Linked DNA regions of Homo sapiens. The gene in region 1 interacts genetically with each later gene. Each region holds a gene or a part of one and is shown in the gene's direction. Other genes may lie near its edges. The genes, in order: STRAP and SMAD7.

Region 1 (8,404 bases):
TATTTATATTTTATACTTTTTACTACATTTAAAAATATTTTTTAATACTTTTTACTATACAGACAGTATCTAGCTATGTTGTCCAGGCTGTCTTAAACTCTTGGCCTCCATGCCTCAGCCTCTCAAAGAGCTGGGGTTACGGGGGTGAACTACTGTGCCTGGTACAGAAATTCTGGTTTGATTGGTCTGGGGATGGAGTACTGGTCATACTGATTATTGGTGTTTTTTTATTTTTCTTTCTTCCTTTTCTTTCCTGATGTGCAGTCATAGAATTGCTGACCTAAAGGACACATTTCAATTGTTGGCCCTTTACAGTTTGCTTCATCCTAGTTCATCAGCATCATCCTCTGCCATTGCACACCATAAACCTACAATCTAATTATACTAATCTTATTGTTGCCAGAATATACCTTACCTGTTCTGACTTTTGGCGGTTAATTATGTTATTAAACTGACTTGCAGTGGCCCTCGTTGCCTTTTTGGGAATGTATCATATTTTATAAATCTTGTTATCTCCAGTTCCTACTTGGTATTTGTAACTTAGGAATTTGACACTTCATTGTTTAAACTGATGAAGGCAATATCAAGAACTGTTGTGCATACACAGATTTATTAGACTTAAGAGGCTAGAGAGTACAAGTGGTGTTTTTTTTTTTTTTTTTTTTTTTTTAAAGACAGAGTCTTGCTATGTCCCCAAGGCTGGAGTGCGGTGGCACAGTCTCGGCTCACTGCAACCTCCACCTCCCGGGTTCAAGTGATTCTCCCACCTCAGCTTCCTGAGAGGCTGGGACTACAGGTGCACGCCACCACGCCTGGCTAATTTTTGTATATTTAGTAGAGACGGGGTTTCGCCATGTTGGCCAGGCCGGTCTCGAACTCCTGACCTCAAGTGATCTGCCCGCCTTGGCCTCCCAAAGTGCTGGGATTACAGGTGTGAGCCACCGTGCCTGGCCTTTTTTTTTTTTTTTTTTAACAACCTCACACTAAGGAGCAATTGTAAATCTGCTGCCTCCTTCATTTTAAGTACATTAAACATACCAATTTTAGAATGAAAAAATGAAGGCTGATTGACTGTGGTGGCAGATACGTGACTGTATGCTCTTGTTTATTGAAACAGTGTTGTTTTTATGCTTTCTTAACATTTCAAGTCTCAATGTCTGTGTTTACAAGTGGTGTATTAAGAGCATGAAGGCTGGAGCCAGATGACCTGAATTTGAATTGGTGGCCTCATGCACTTTATTTAACCATTTTTTTTTCTGTCATGGTACCTAATTCATAGGTTGGTTTTGAATATTAAATAAGTTAATATGTTTCGAATACTTACAACATTGCCTGAAGTCTATTACACCTATGAAAGTGTTACATATGTAAAGTAACGATGATAGCTACCATGTAAACTATCACCACCCGCACTTGATCAAAATCACATATTATTTTGAAACTAATATGGCTAAAGCCTTCAAACTATTTGGCCTCATATAAGGAAGATTGAATAGATTTAAATGTCAAGAAGGAAGATTTTTGTGATTTTTTTTTCCCCCTCCTCAGTTAAGGCTTTAGGTGCTGTGTTAGAGTGGAAAATAATAACAAGCATTGGCACTAGGTGGGCTTGCATTCGTGTGCTAACTATGCTGTGTATTTCCAGTTTGATCATCATAGGATTTTTTTTTTTTTTTGAAACAGGGTCTTAGGTGCCTAGGCTAGAGTGCAGTGGCGTGATCATAGCTCACTGCAGCCTCTATCTCCCAGTCTCAAGCAGTTCTCCAACCTCAGCCTCCTGAATAGTGACCACAGGCGTGTACTACCATGCTTGGCTAATCTTTGTGTTTTTTGTAGAGATGGGCTTCACCATGTTGTCCAGGTTGGTCTTGAACTCTTGGGCTCAAGCGATCTGCCCACCATGGCAGGATGTTTCTTAAATGTCGGCTTTCATATCTGTAAAATGGGACTAAGACCCATGAGATTATTGGAGGAACAGAGAGATCTTTCTCCACCATATATCCCTGAAGTCCAATATGATCTCTGTCACATAGTAGGTGCTCAATAAATGCTAGTTGAGATTTATCCCTCATTTCCTCTATGTCTTGTCTGTGGGGTGTAGGAGCGTGTTTTCATGTGCGTGTTTGTGTGTGTGTGTATTCTCTCCAAGAAGTTACTCCCCACAGCCTACCTGATTAGTCATGGTTGGTATAAAGCATTTTTAGAAACAATTTTTTTTTCCCTCCATTCTTACGTTTCTTGGAAAACTCATTTATGGTGTGGTCATTTAGAAGTGGAATTTGGTCCCGTTTCTTGTGGAGAAATTTAGCAGAATAGGTCTGTGGACTAGTGTAGAATGTTATCTTGGAGTAATTCGGGCAATTGAGTCCAGTGTTGAGTACAGTGTCCCTAAAACACCATCTCTTTGTATCTATTTGGGAAGAGTGCCAAAGTAAAGACAATTCTGTGCTGTGCTCCCAAGAGGGCTTAAGTAGATCTGGGATTGGGTCCAGGAATTTATAGGTAATCACAATGTATCACTCTTTCTTTCTTGTAAAGCCAATAGAAATATCTAATTTTAGTTTTAATAAGGTTCTTGATAAATCGAAAATGGTATTATCTCCTAGATGACTTGGTCAACATGTTAAGGTATTTGGGCAATTTTTTAAAAATCTTAAACTGGCCTGTTTTGTTGAAGGTTTAAATAAGTAAGTTAAGCAGCTCCTATTATGAGACTTACGGTAAGTTCATTCTGAGGATATGGAAAGTATCAGGCAGCATTATTATTTGCAAGAAACTGGGGTATAAGAGGTAACAGTAGTTTAAGGAGATGACAAGTACTTCGTGGGATGTGAAGAAAATGTTGGAGGGTTAGCTGCTGAAAGGGTATTGTTAATAGCGCTTTACTGTCTTGATTTGAGCCCTGTGGCCAACTAATATATGTCAATTTCTTGCCTGGAGATTGAATAATACATTAGGAAACATTTAGATTAGATCCATTTTAGGGCTCTTACTGTGAATAATGGAAATCTGCCAGAGTTAGTACATGCCCTGTCAGAAAATGTCATGCCTCTATTTTAGTACTGTTTCTAAATAGGAGGAAAAACTACAGACACATTACCTCTCTGGTTAATATTACTACTTTGGTCACTCCAACTCTCTTCTCACCTTTGAATAGACACAGTCTAAGCAGAATCTTAAGATTTTAGAGCTGCCATGTTGGCGTTAGCCTGTAGCTACTTAGGAGGCTGAGGTGGAAGGATCTTGAGGCCAGGAGTTCAAGTATAGCTTGGGCAATATACCAAGATCCTGTCTCAAAAAAAAAAAGAGAGAGAGGTTTTAAGTTTATGGGAGATTATTTAATAAACTTGAAATTAGCATATCAAAGGACATTGCCCGGGTTTCTTTGGAGACTTGTGAATAATTAGAATAGTAATTTTAGATACATTTGTTGTTTTCTTCACTTTTGATGCTTTCTGTCATTCTAATACTTGTGAACCCTTACCACAACCATGAAATGCATTTCACTGTGATTAAGGATATATGTAAACAAAAAACAAAGCAAATTTAAGCACCGTAATAAGTGGAGTTCTGTGGGAGAACAGAAAGGAATGGTTAATTATTGGAGTTGAGGATAAATAGTTTCAAAGAAAAGATAGCATTTGAAATGAGCCCTAAGGGTGAGTAGAACTTTAATAGCTAAGAATGTAAAATACAGACTTAAGAGAATAATATAAACAAGAACATAGGAGCCTGGAAGAAAATACGTAAGTTATTTGAGGAGTGGTTTATAATCTAGTGTTGCTAGATTCAGAGAAACAATACAAAATGAGGTTGGGAAAGTAGATTGGGGCCAGAGAGTTGCATTGGAATGACAGAGAGAGGAGCAAGTTTCCTGGGCAAAGAGAAATGAATACTAGGGAGTTTAGCAGCAAGGCTACTTATAGTTGACATTATTTCTTTCAGAACATATTTATTCAGCCACTCACATGACCCACATTATTAAATATTGCAAGCTTTGGTAGTGTATCATGAGCATTCCTGTTAGATGGTCTTTCATATTCATTAACCACATTGCACATGCTATTAATGCTTATCTAGAATAGCCTTCCCTTCTTTTTCCCCTGATATATTTCTCTTTGCTTCTTCCGACGGCTAGCTCTGTTACTTACATTTTCTGGACAATATCTAGGTGCTTTTTTCTGAGTTTTTATAGCCATATATATGTCTTTTAATTATATTTCTTAAATGTGATATTTAATGCATGTTTTTCTCCTCAGCTAAAGCTCTACTATGGCAAGAACCTACTGTGGGGTATTTTTTGTCTCCCATTTGTGCCTTAGCACTAAGTATAGAATGATATATATTTAATATATTTTATTATGTATTGGGGTAAGCAAAAGAAAAGATACATCTTGCTTTTCTCTGATTTTTTTCCCTCTACCATTTTATTGCCCACTGTGTTCCTGAAAATAAATAGCAGTTGCATTAAAATGGAAATCTCTATGGAACATAGCTTTTTCACTCTTAGCAATTCTTTTCCCTGTCTGCAAAGTTTTCTTGTTTATTTTTCACTGACCTGTTCTGATCTAAAATCAACTTTTTTTTCCCCCTTCCTTAAGCTTTTTTATTTGGGGGAACCCTTTTAGAGTAATTTTGTAAAGTATTGCTCAACTATTACCCGCCCAGAATATACATACACATATAAATGTATGTATACCTATAACCAACTTGTATTTTGGGGTGGGGTGGGACAGAAAAAACAATGTAAAGATTAAAATAGTCAGTGTTAGCATTATATAATCAAAGGCTGATAGTTTGGGGGAAGTTAACTGTACTAGAGTTTGAAATTTTAAGTCAGCTTTGAAGAAGAGATGAAGTGGACATTGTCTCTCCACTATCTTAATTTAAAATTTTACTTAGCCTGTACCAAGGCTTTTCATTCCCTTGTAACATTTTTAAGGATTTCTGGTTTTTTTATTTATTTTTATTTTTTATTGTGCATCTGAGTGGAGAATAGAGAAAAAATTGGCATGGTGAAACTAAAAATTGGTTAAAATGTATGACAGGCTTGCTAAAGGGATATTATGGCTGTCAGCTAAAATAAAAGTAAGGAGGATGGGTTGGTTCATGAATCTTACTTGCTTAAATTGTTCATATCTTTTCCACTGTCAAAGAAAATTAGATTGGTTATAAAGTTTTTACAGAGAAATTTCTTTTCCCTTAAGCTTATTTAAATATTTTATCAAATGAAGTCTGTGAGGGATATTAGAGATAAAGGAGATTTATAATACATTTATGTAACATTTCACATATCTAACTTATTTGGTACTCATCAATATTATAATTGTATTTATCCTTTTAATATATTGGGTAATATTTATCCTACTAATTTTCTCTTTTTTACTTTTAGCAAAGTGTGGGATGCTGTCTCAGGAGATGAATTGATGACCCTGGCTCATAAACACATTGTCAAGACTGTGGATTTCACGCAGGTATCAGAAAATGGAATTTATTTTAGCGAGTTAAGTTGCTGGTACATAGTGTGATAATGCTTTTATACTTGATTGGTGTGTATATTTGATTGATATGTTTTGTGTGGAATATTTGTTATTTCTTGGTTCATATTTGATTTGATTGTGTATTAAGCTCTATGAATTTGTTTCATAGTTAATCCTGTCAAGCTTTTAAGATACTGTGGAACGAGTACCAGTCCTTCAACATGTAAAAAACATCTGAAAAGCTCAAGTAGCCTTCCCCAACTACTAATAGAAGGGAGAAGATAAATTTGAGATAATCAGAAAAGGGCCTCTCACAAGGGAGAGGAGTAGGATCAGGGGAGAATGGGAGAGTTCATGTATATGTAGTGTAGTGTAACGCTTTTGAAGTGGAAAGCTTACAAGTCTTGGCAGTTATGAGAGGTCAGCTGTTCCACAGTATCTTCTCAGAAGTAATTGGTTATGTCTTGGCATCTCTTTGTGATGTCTGTGAGCTAGATTTTGATTTTATTTGGTGTTGAAATTTGAAAGAGAAATAACTATTAAAATGGTTAATCTATTCACATTTTACTTTGTGTTTTCAGGATAGTAATTATTTGTTAACCGGGGGACAGGATAAACTGTTACGCATATATGACTTGAACAAACCTGAAGCAGGTAAGCATAATTTAAACATCAGCTTCTAGTTTTATTTTCTTTTAATTTAAATAACTGATTAAAGAATTTCATGCTCAGTACTCAAATTTGGAAAATAAAGATAGTCATGGCCGGGCACGGTGGCTCATACCTGTAATCCTAGCACTTTGGGAGACTGAGGCGGGTGGATCACTTGAGGTCAGGAGTTCGAGACCAGCCTGGCCAACATGGCAAAACCCCGTCTCTATTAAAAATAGAAAAATTAGCCAGGCATGGTGGCAGGCGCTTGTAATCCCAGCTACTTGGGAGGCTGAGGCAGGAGAATCGCTTGAACCCGGGAGGTGGAGGTTGCAGTGAGCCGAGATTGCGCCACTGCACTCCAGCCTGGGCAATAAGAGTGAAACTCAGTTTCAAAAAAAAAAAAATAGTCAACAAAGAAGAAAATTAAAACGTAATTCATCAGTTTTTGGTTTATAAACTTTCAGTCTTTTTTTCTGCACAGTTTTTAAAAAATAAGTTTATTTGCTATGTTGCTATTGTATAACCTTCTTCCAAACTGAAAATTTATTATGGCAAATTTTTATCATTAAGTTTTAAAACAGTGCAGAACAGTGTTACTATTTTTTGGTAAGAAAGATTGGTTATTTATAGAAGTTGGTGATGGTGAGAATTCTCAGTTGTGTGCACATATTGCTTAGATTTTTGAACCATGTAAATATATTAGCTATTCGAAAGAATTTTAAAAAATCTGCAGTTACAGTTTTTTCATTTCACTAAATAGTCTATGAACTGTTTGTAATGACTTTCTGGTTTTCCATCCTGTGGTTATATCATAAGTGAATTAACTAGTTTCCTGTTTTGGCCCGTTTGGGCTACTTACAGATTTTAAATATGAAAAGCAGTATTATGCTAAACATCCTTACAGTTGCAAATATTTTCACAATGATTTCCTTAAGATAACTAAGCAAAAGTAGAATTGGTGGGACAAAGAGGAGTGGAATTGTTGGAAGGTGGCCGGGCGCAGTGGCTCACGCCTGTAATCCCAGTGCTTTGGGAGGCCAAGGTGAGTGGATCACCTGAGGTCAGGAGTTCAATACCAGCCTGGCCAACATGGTGAAACCCCATCTCTACTAAAAGTACAAAAAAATTAGCTGGGCATGGTGGCAGGCGCCTGTAATTCCCAGGTACTCAGGAGGGTGAGGCAGGAGAATCGCTTGAACCCGGGAGGTAGAGGTTGCAGTGAGCCGAGATTGCATACCAGCCTGGGGGACAAGAGCAAAACTCCTTCTCAAAAAGAAAAAAAAAAAATGAATTGTTGGAAGCCATTGATAGATACTACCAAAGTGTCTTCCAACAAAGTATGGGTATATATGTATGTATCTATACCCAACATGTTCTAGTGAGCACTGATAACTAACTTTCTCTTTGTCAATTTAAGAAAATAATTCTGTTGTATTAATGTGAATATTCATGAGATTAAAATGCTATTGAATACCATTTTAATATATTCCCTTTTTTATGGAATAATTGCCTGTCTACCTTTTGTCCATTTATCTGTTGTGTTATTCATGTTTTTCTTACTGGTTTTTAAAGGTTCTTTATTGAATTCTAATTTATCATTTGCTTTTAAATTTTGTTAAGGTGGTTTTATGGTATATATGTTTTTAACATTTTGGTGGTGAAATTCTTTATGCATTCTCTCATTTTACAGAAGTTATAGGTGTCTTCCCCAGTCTACATGTTTATTTTATAATATTTTAATAATTTCCCTCACCATATATATACTTAGCTACCAAAACATGACAAACATAATTTTGTTTTATTATATATTTGGTATCTTTCAGATTTTATTATGTGGACATTTATGTAGTCATAAATCTATAAAATTTTAAAGAGTAATAAGAGAGTCAGAACCACATTGGAAATTAAGCGGTTATTCTCTTGAGATACCTTCCATTTCTGAGAACTTTTTAAAATATTTTACATTTTAATGTTACAGTAATTTGTTATGAAAACATTTTTAAGGTGAGGAAACAAAGCGCATTTGCAGATTTTTTTATTCTCCATTGCATGTAGAAGTTTTTTTCTCCTTTCTTTTTTGATAAATCTATGCCAAAACATAGCAAAGGACTCTGACCTCACTTCTTCTATGAACCCATTCAACAAAGCAAGGTAGTTCAGGGATTGGGTCAAAGCAAGGTAGTTCAGGGATTGGGTTGACATTTTTCATGCTCTTTACCTTTCCCAAAGCTGTTTTATGAAAGTTGCTCTTTCGCTGTGCTGGCAGCAGA
Region 2 (8,243 bases), on another chromosome or scaffold:
TAACTGATTCAGGGGATGCCAGGGAGCTATAAAGCAGCACCAATCATTGTAGCTACTTGCTCAGCACCGCACCCAGCTTCTACCTAGGGTAGCAAAATGGAAGAGGAAAGCCGTGTAGAGAGGGGTGACACCTGAATTAATACACCTACAATTACACTATACGGGAACATATCTCTGCAAGTACATGCATGTTCCACCCAGACAAACCGTGACGTCAGACTCCACTCTTGAAACACCCATGAAACCTACCTGCCCTGTGTGTGCTCCGGCCTCTCATTACAGAGCCTTAGCACTACTGGCCAGATCTCCAAAAGATTCTTCAGATTCTCCATTTAGCCAAGAAACTGAATTAGAATTATGACCTCTACTTTCTCTGCTTATTTAAGTCCTTTCTGTTGCTATGAAGCCTGGTCTGACCACTCTCAATAAGTGAAGATCTTTTAGGGAGATCCAGAACAGAGAGGGAATGGGACCCTAGAGAGCGGAAACTTGCCCAGAAAATCTTATAAACTCTGCCAAGTGCTCGCCTAACGTGGGGATTGCTGTTGGCCCTAGTTGCTTAACCAGTGAGCGGCAACGCCCCAGCCTGGAATCAGGTTTTCTGACCTCTAGTCTGGTACTCTTTCTAAGCCTTTCTAAGGTGAAAATATGATACATTTCCCAGACACCTTAAAAATCCCATTTCTGGGCCGGGCGCTGTGGCTCATGCCTGTTATCCCACACTTTGGGAGGCTGAGGCGGGTGGATCGCCTGAGCTCAGGAGTTCGAGACTAGCCTGGGCAACACGGTGAAACCTTGTCTCTGCTAAAATACAAAAAAATTAGCGAGGTGTGGAGTGCACGTGTAGTTCCAGCTACTAGGGAGGCTGAGGCAGGAGAATTGCTTGAACCCAGGAGGCGGAGGTTGCAGTGAGCTGAGATCATGCCACTGCCCTCTAGGCTGGGTGACAAAGCAAGGCTCCATCTCAAAAAAAAAAAAAAAAAAAAAAATCCCACTTCTGTCTCTTTCGTCTTCCCTTGCCTATCATGATAGGCCTCCCAAAGTGCTGGGATTACACTCCTTCTCCATTCTCTCCTGTGCTTTCTCAGCTGCTGTCTTCACAGGTTGCTTCTTAGAATGTTTTTTTAATACACACACAAGGTTTCAATGCCCTTTTATACAAGCCATATTTTAATTTACAACAAAATTATGATGTTATACAACTGCAGCTTATGTGGCCTTACACAGTAAATGTTCAGAATGGCAGCTTCTGTCCGTCCAGTAGGGTTCTGCACTGCTTGGCATCCTACTATCTTCCAAGTCAATAAGTGTTAGGATCTCCTTGCCTGGAAATGATCATGTAAGCAATGTTGCTGATTTCCTCTTGAATTTATATTACCAAAGGTACTTTTGGTGGGGTGGAGGAAGGGTCCAAATGCCCCTTAAGCCCTAAGTGTTGATTTCTAAATATTTATTAAGCATCTACTATTGTACTAATATGTTAGAAATCTTTTTAATTGCTAGAGGGGGAGAGGACTTGAGCTCTAAAGGCGGCTAAGATTCATTCCTGCCTTTTCCTTTTAAGAACATATAATTTAGCCGGCAAGATGTACATTTCATCTTTACTTTTCTTTTTTTCTTTTCTTTTTTTGAGACAGAGTCTCACTCTGTTGCCCAGGATGGAGTGCAGTGGCGCGATCTCAGCTCACTGCAACCTCCGTCTCCCGGGTTCAAGCAATTCTCCTGTCTCAGCTGGGATTACTGGCGCGCGCCACCCGCCTGGCTAATTTTTGTATTTTTAGTAGAGACGGGTTTCACCATGTTGGCCAGGCTGGTCTCAAACTCTTGACCTCAGGTGATCCACCTGCCTCAGCCTCCCAAAGTGCTGGGATTACAAGCGTGAGCCATCGCACCTGGGCACATTTCACCTTTTCTAAAGATTATTTTAAGGCCAGGTGCAGTGGCTCACGCCTGTACTCCCAGTACTTTGAGAGGCTGAGGCAGGTAGATCACTTGAGGTCAGGAGTTCCACATCAGCCTGGCCAACATGGTTAAACCGCGTCACTACCAAAAAATACAAAAATTAGCCAGATGTGGTGGCGCGCGCCTGTAGTCCCAGCTACTCCGGAGGCTGAGGTGGGAGAATCGTTTGATCTGGGGAGGCAGAGGCTGCAGTGAGCCGAAATCGAGCCACTGGACTCTAGCCCGGGTGAAGAGTGAGACTCTAAAAAAAAAAAAAAAAAGAAAGAAAGAAAGAAAAAAAGATTCTTTAAAGCCCCCAACGAGTTTCACTGCTGGCCTGATCTCACAATTCTCAATGGCTTTTTAAAAAAATCGTATTTCACTGAATATGAAGTGAGGTTAGATCACCATGCCAACTAGTGGCCTCATCAATACTGATGTGTGTGTATTTAAATCATTACGTTTCTCGGAGCCATCAGCTTTCACGCTGTAAATGCGTTTATGCCCTAGCAATGCCATGCCCGTTTCTATGCAGTAACCCGCCAGCTTGGGTATATGTTTCTTCGGGACCTGGGGTCAAGGAATAAACTCTCTGACTCTAAGCACCTTGAAAGCTACGAGGCCCAGAAACAGGGCCTGCATGCAAATGAATGCCCTAGGCAGGTCTGCTCGCTGGGTAACCTTCCCGCGCCGGGAGGCAGGGTGGCGGGTGGCGGAGGTCTTCCGGGCCCGGGAGGAAACCTGCCCGCGGCGCGCAGGCGAGCCCCCACCCCCGCTCCCCTTCTCCCGCCGGGATGCTGCCCCTCACAGCTCGTCAGCCGGCCAAATGCATTCCAGAGCTGTGCACAAGACACACTTCTCCAGGCAGTCCTAGAAACCGGAGCCCGGAGCTGAGAGGGCGGGAGGGAGCGCGCGGCCGCCGCTGAGGTCATATTCACGCCGCCTCCCCGCCCTCGGCGGCTGTTCCCCTCAGCGCACACTTCCCAGGGCCTCGGTCCAGTCCGGTATAAATGTCTTTTAAACCGAGACAGCGCTCTCCTCCCCTTGCCCTCGGGCGCGGCCAAGGGATCCACCGCCAGGGCCTTTAAAACAAAACCAATGAATGAAGCGCTAGGGCGAGCGCGCGCGAGATGGCCACCGCGAAACCCAGCCGGGTCGAAATCGGGCCACCGACCCGCTCGCTCAGCTCCAAAACTCGCGGCGAAGCCCGCTCGGTGCTCCCTGCTTTTCCAATTTCTCCATGGCTCCGGCCGGGGCTCAATCCATTCTGGGAGCTTCTCTGCCCCCCACCTATCTCTCTCCCCTCCATCGGTACCCCCTCTACAGACCCGGGAGGGGGTGGCGGTGGCGGGGGGTTGGGGGGAGAAATAGCTTTTAGAAACCCGATCTGTTGTTTGCGAAACACAATCGCTTTTTTTTTTTTTTTAAAGCGACAGGGTGTCTAGACGGCCACGTGACGAGGCCGGAGCCGGGCGCGCCACTGCGCAGTGGAACCAGCCGAGCAGAGGGCCGGAGGGGGGGTGCGGGGGGGCGGGGAGGAGGCGGCGCGGCTGCGGCGGCTGGGGGCGGGGGAGGGAAGGGGGAGGAAGGGGGAGGGAAGGGGGCGGGGGCGGGAGGCCTTGCGGGAGGCGGTGAGCCCCGGGCACACTCGCTTGCTGCTCGGCGCACGGAAGATCCTGTCCCCGAGCCGCGCCAGCCGAGCCAGCCGGGCGCCGTGCTCGGTCCGCTCGCCGCGCGGGAGAGAGCTGCCCGAGACAGAGCCAGTCCGTCGGCGCCGAGCCGCCGAGCGCCCGGCCCCTGAGCCCCTGAGTGCGGCGCGGCGAGCCCCTGGCGGCGGCAGAAGGACCGGAGCGCCAGGAGAGGGCGGACCGGGGACAAGGAGGCTCCCGGGCGCGACGAGGAGAGTCTCGGAGGAGGAGGCGCCGAGAGGACACCGGGGCCTCCTGCCGCCGCAGCTGGGTCGAGGCGAGCAGCCCATGCGGGGAGCCTCGGCGGCCAGCCGCGGCCAGGGGAAGGGACATCGGCGGCCCCTGCACTAGCAAGCAGCTTGTGCCCGGGGGGGGCGAGAACGCGCGACCCGTCTGGGGCCCTCCGCCGCCGCCGCGCCACCCTCCCCCGCGCTGTCAGCCCCGCCGGGCTCAGCCGCCGCCGCAGCATCTTCTGCCCCTGCGCCCGCGCCAGCCTCGAGGAAGTCCCCGCCGAGGACCTGGGCCCCCAGGAGCGCAGGGGGAAAGACCAGAGACTCCCCTAAACCACCCAGATGCGCAGGATTGAAGCGGTCTAGCCAAAGCTTTCTGTGGATTAAAAAAATACACGATTTTTTTTTTTTTTTTTGGCAGAAGAAAAGGAGAGGAAGACCAGCGGGGCTTTGCAAGGAAACGGGGGGATGTAACTCGTGGATACATTTTTCCACCCATCAAACATCTTGTTATACTTTGTAAACATTTTCTTTTTTTAAACCCCAGTTCCAGCCGGACGCCCCCAGACCTCTGAGGTTCGAGGAGGTGGTGGTTTTCATTTGGGGCTTTGCATATTTGGTTGTTAGGTTTTGCGAGAGCCTTCTTATTTTGCCAGACGTCTCATGCGGGGTGAAGTCCACTCGGCCCCCTCCCCTGAGTCTTCGTGTGCGCGGAATTCGAGGAGATCCGGTTACTAAGGATATAGAGGAAAAAAATAAATCGCTTGCTTTTTTTTTTTTAATTGCCTGCTTCTCCCCACCCCCAAATTAAGTTGCTTAGCAAGGGGGAAAGAGGCTTTTTCCTTCTTCCAACAGCCCAGCCGAACGCCTTTCGTTTTTTGCCCCCGCGGACCTTCCATGTAGGAAGCCGAGGCTGGCGAGCCCGACATTCGGGAGCCACTGCGGGGGGGCCTCTTTTTGGGGAGGCGCCGACGGGGGCAGGCTCGGCCGTCCCCAGGGAAGCGGCGGCCGGGTTCCTCCGGGGCGCGCCGGGGCCGGAGAGCCGCGCAGGGCGCGGGCCGCGCGGGGTGGGGCAGCCGGAGCGCAGGCCCCCGATCCCCGGCGGGCGCCCCCGGGCCCCCGCGCGCGCCCCGGCCTCCGGGAGACTGGCGCATGCCACGGAGCGCCCCTCGGGCCGCCGCCGCTCCTGCCCGGGCCCCTGCTGCTGCTGCTGTCGCCTGCGCCTGCTGCCCCAACTCGGCGCCCGACTTCTTCATGGTGTGCGGAGGTCATGTTCGCTCCTTAGCAGGCAAACGACTTTTCTCCTCGCCTCCTCGCCCCGCATGTTCAGGACCAAACGATCTGCGCTCGTCCGGCGTCTCTGGAGGAGCCGTGCGCCCGGCGGCGAGGACGAGGAGGAGGGCGCAGGGGGAGGTGGAGGAGGAGGCGAGCTGCGGGGAGAAGGGGCGACGGACAGCCGAGCGCATGGGGCCGGTGGCGGCGGCCCGGGCAGGGCTGGATGCTGCCTGGGCAAGGCGGTGCGAGGTGCCAAAGGTCACCACCATCCCCACCCGCCAGCCGCGGGCGCCGGCGCGGCCGGGGGCGCCGAGGCGGATCTGAAGGCGCTCACGCACTCGGTGCTCAAGAAACTGAAGGAGCGGCAGCTGGAGCTGCTGCTCCAGGCCGTGGAGTCCCGCGGCGGGACGCGCACCGCGTGCCTCCTGCTGCCCGGCCGCCTGGACTGCAGGCTGGGCCCGGGGGCGCCCGCCGGCGCGCAGCCTGCGCAGCCGCCCTCGTCCTACTCGCTCCCCCTCCTGCTGTGCAAAGTGTTCAGGTGGCCGGATCTCAGGCATTCCTCGGAAGTCAAGAGGCTGTGTTGCTGTGAATCTTACGGGAAGATCAACCCCGAGCTGGTGTGCTGCAACCCCCATCACCTTAGCCGACTCTGCGAACTAGGTGAGAAGTTGTCCCCCTACCCCCAACATTTTCCGGAGCGCCAGTGCTGGAAGAAAAGCCCCTAGGGCAGTGCGTTTGTGCAGCCATCCCTCCAGGGGGAGTGTGCATACCCTCCTGGGAGAGTGTGCATACCCTCCTGGGAGAGTGTGCATACCCTCCTGGGAAGAGACTGGGGGCTGAAAGTAGAGAAGGGACAAGGGGAAACTCAAAGGGCATTCCCTGGGGGTTCCCTTCCAGGTTTTCTCCTGTGTTGCCCCGAAGGGGTCTACGGGCACTGCTCCTGCAGTCTGCGGTTAAAAATTAGACGCCTTCATTTCCGGATCAACAAGGGGGTGCAGAGGGAGGTGGGGGGGTCACGCCTCCCCGCACCCGGAAAGACGTTGAGGTGTGTGGCCGAGTTGGATTTGGTCCAGGCCCGCCAAGGAAGGCTGGGAGAGGCGTGCTATAAAGGCTGGAAGGTCTCCGTATTTACTCCTTTAGTAAATACGGAGAATCACGTCGAACACCAGTGGCCCAGATACTGTCGTGGCCGCGCACCTTTGGAGTTTTGGGGCAAAGAGAGTTGGATGGAAGGCCGAACTGGGTATCTGTCTCCTTTCAACTCTGCCAGCCCCAGGGTGCAGAGGAACAAACAGGCAGGAGAAGTTGGGTGTCCCCTACTTTTTCCTTCCTTCCGCACAGATAAGTCTGTAGATTAGTGGGGCCCCGGCGCCTCAGTGACGTTGTCGCCTCTTACTGCGCTGGGGCCTGGGCTTCTCGGCTGAGACCCTGAAACTCCTTTCCTTTTATCCTCTCAGCTTTCTCCATTCCTTCCTTTACTCTACGTCTCTGTACACAGAGTGTGATGTGAGGGTTCACCCCGGGCGCCCGCAGATCCCCCACGTTCCCCAGCACGCTTGGGATGCATCTCCCGAGTGCGCTAGGAATGGGCAGCCCCGTGTCCCCCGCGCGAGTGCCGAGCGGACCGGCGGGGGCAGAGGTGAATTGCACGCCTGGGGGGCGGGCCGGGGCGGGGAGCCGAGGTTGCTGGGAGCTGGGTCTGGAGTCCGAGGACGGGGAGGGGGCATGGTCGCCCCCCGCCCTGTGAACTGTGAAGTGCGCGGCTCCGGCCGAGCCGGTGGTTTCCAGCCGGGCCAGCCGAGCGCGGCGGCTGCGGCCGCAGACGTGGAGGAGCGGAGCGCCGAGGCTGGCGCCAGGCGGCCTCTTTTGTTTATCTGACAGCTAAATATCAAGGCAATCACCGCCTCGCGGCCCTGCCTCCAACCCCCACAGCTAAGACAAACAGTTGGGCTAAAAGAATGCCTCTGTTATCATAAGTTTCTATCTCTCTTCTCATGGCTGGGCCTTTATTTTCTCTTGCTTTTTTAATTTCAGAGTCTCCCCCCCCTCCTTACTCCAGATACCCGATGGATTTTCTCAAACCAACTGGTGAGTAGATGATTTTTAAAATATCCTGCTTATCTTAAGTTAGAAATAGAGCCTCTAGAACGTGGCTTTTTGTGTGTAGGCAAAGGCTTGGGGAGGTGCTGGGCTTCACGTTGGTTCTAGGTTTCCTCTGTTGGAAGTTTGGTGAATTTTTCTGTTGTGGCTGGGTTTTTTGCTGTTTTTGCAAAGACGTTCCCTTGATATGCTTTACATTTTGTTCCTTTTTCATGTATTTGTGCTGTGTAGCCGGTGGGCTCAGCTTTAACACGTGGAAGCTTTAGTCCAGAGAGAAGTGTCTTGGGAACCAAATAGGACTGGTTGATGGGGATAACTCGGAGACTTAGTGAGTGCCAGGAGCATCAGTGGGAATAATGGAAAGGGTGATTCGATAGATGGGAAGACGGTTTAAAAAGGTGCAAAGAAGACTTTGGTCTGGAGTAGACACTAGAACTTTTCAGAAGTATAGGCAACAGCCAGTAAAAGGGGGGGGGGGGTAGGTTCCTCCTGCTCCAGTCACCTGCAAGTCAGTCCTCTCCCGGGGTTTTCTCAGTATTCGCCATAGGGACTATCAAAGTTTGAAGCATAGCTCTGCCTGTCTGCTGCTTTGTCACTGGCTGGCATGAAGCCATGGCAGAAGCCCATTTGAGACTGGCACCAGCCCTGTTGTGGTTGTCTGCATTCAACTTCTGGCCGGCAGCAGCACAGGGGTCCATCCTCTGGACATCACAGTGCTGGGGACAGGGTCAGCAAAATGAACTTGGGGGTGACAACAAGGACAAACCCAAATTCCTGGAGCTCCCTCTTACAGTAGGAGATAGATCTGTTTGCTAAAAGTACAGGTTGTATGTAACCTTGGTTTTTGTGCCTGTATACTGGTGCCTGAAAAAAACATTAATACTTGGGACATTTTTATTTTGCCAAGGTTCTGGGAGAAGGAAAAGTGAAGGGTTGGGCACCATTTAGCTCCTGGAATTCTGCAAGTCCTTCCGCCTCCTGCGTTTTGGCTGTTGGGCCTTTCCCCCCA

What was found.
Region 2: of STRAP (region 1) and SMAD7, changing one enhances a phenotype caused by changing the other (phenotypic enhancement), as found in Homo sapiens cells (one study listed by BioGRID).

What each region holds. Positions count from the first base shown.
Region 1 is NC_000012.12:15,884,536-15,892,939, forward strand, and holds part of STRAP (serine-threonine kinase receptor-associated protein), read left to right. Parts: intron 1-5,392; coding exon 5,393-5,474; intron 5,475-6,061; coding exon 6,062-6,134; intron 6,135-8,404. UniProt on the Homo sapiens protein: The SMN complex catalyzes the assembly of small nuclear ribonucleoproteins (snRNPs), the building blocks of the spliceosome, and thereby plays an important role in the splicing of cellular pre-mRNAs.
Region 2 is NC_000018.10:48,947,363-48,955,605, reverse strand, and holds the start of SMAD7 (mothers against decapentaplegic homolog 7), read left to right. Parts: upstream 1-4,640; 5' UTR 4,641-5,181; coding exon 5,182-5,794; intron 5,795-6,272; exon of another isoform or gene 6,273-6,377; intron 6,378-7,168; coding exon 7,169-7,222; intron 7,223-8,243. UniProt on the Homo sapiens protein: Antagonist of signaling by TGF-beta (transforming growth factor) type 1 receptor superfamily members; has been shown to inhibit TGF-beta (Transforming growth factor) and activin signaling by associating with their receptors thus preventing SMAD2 access.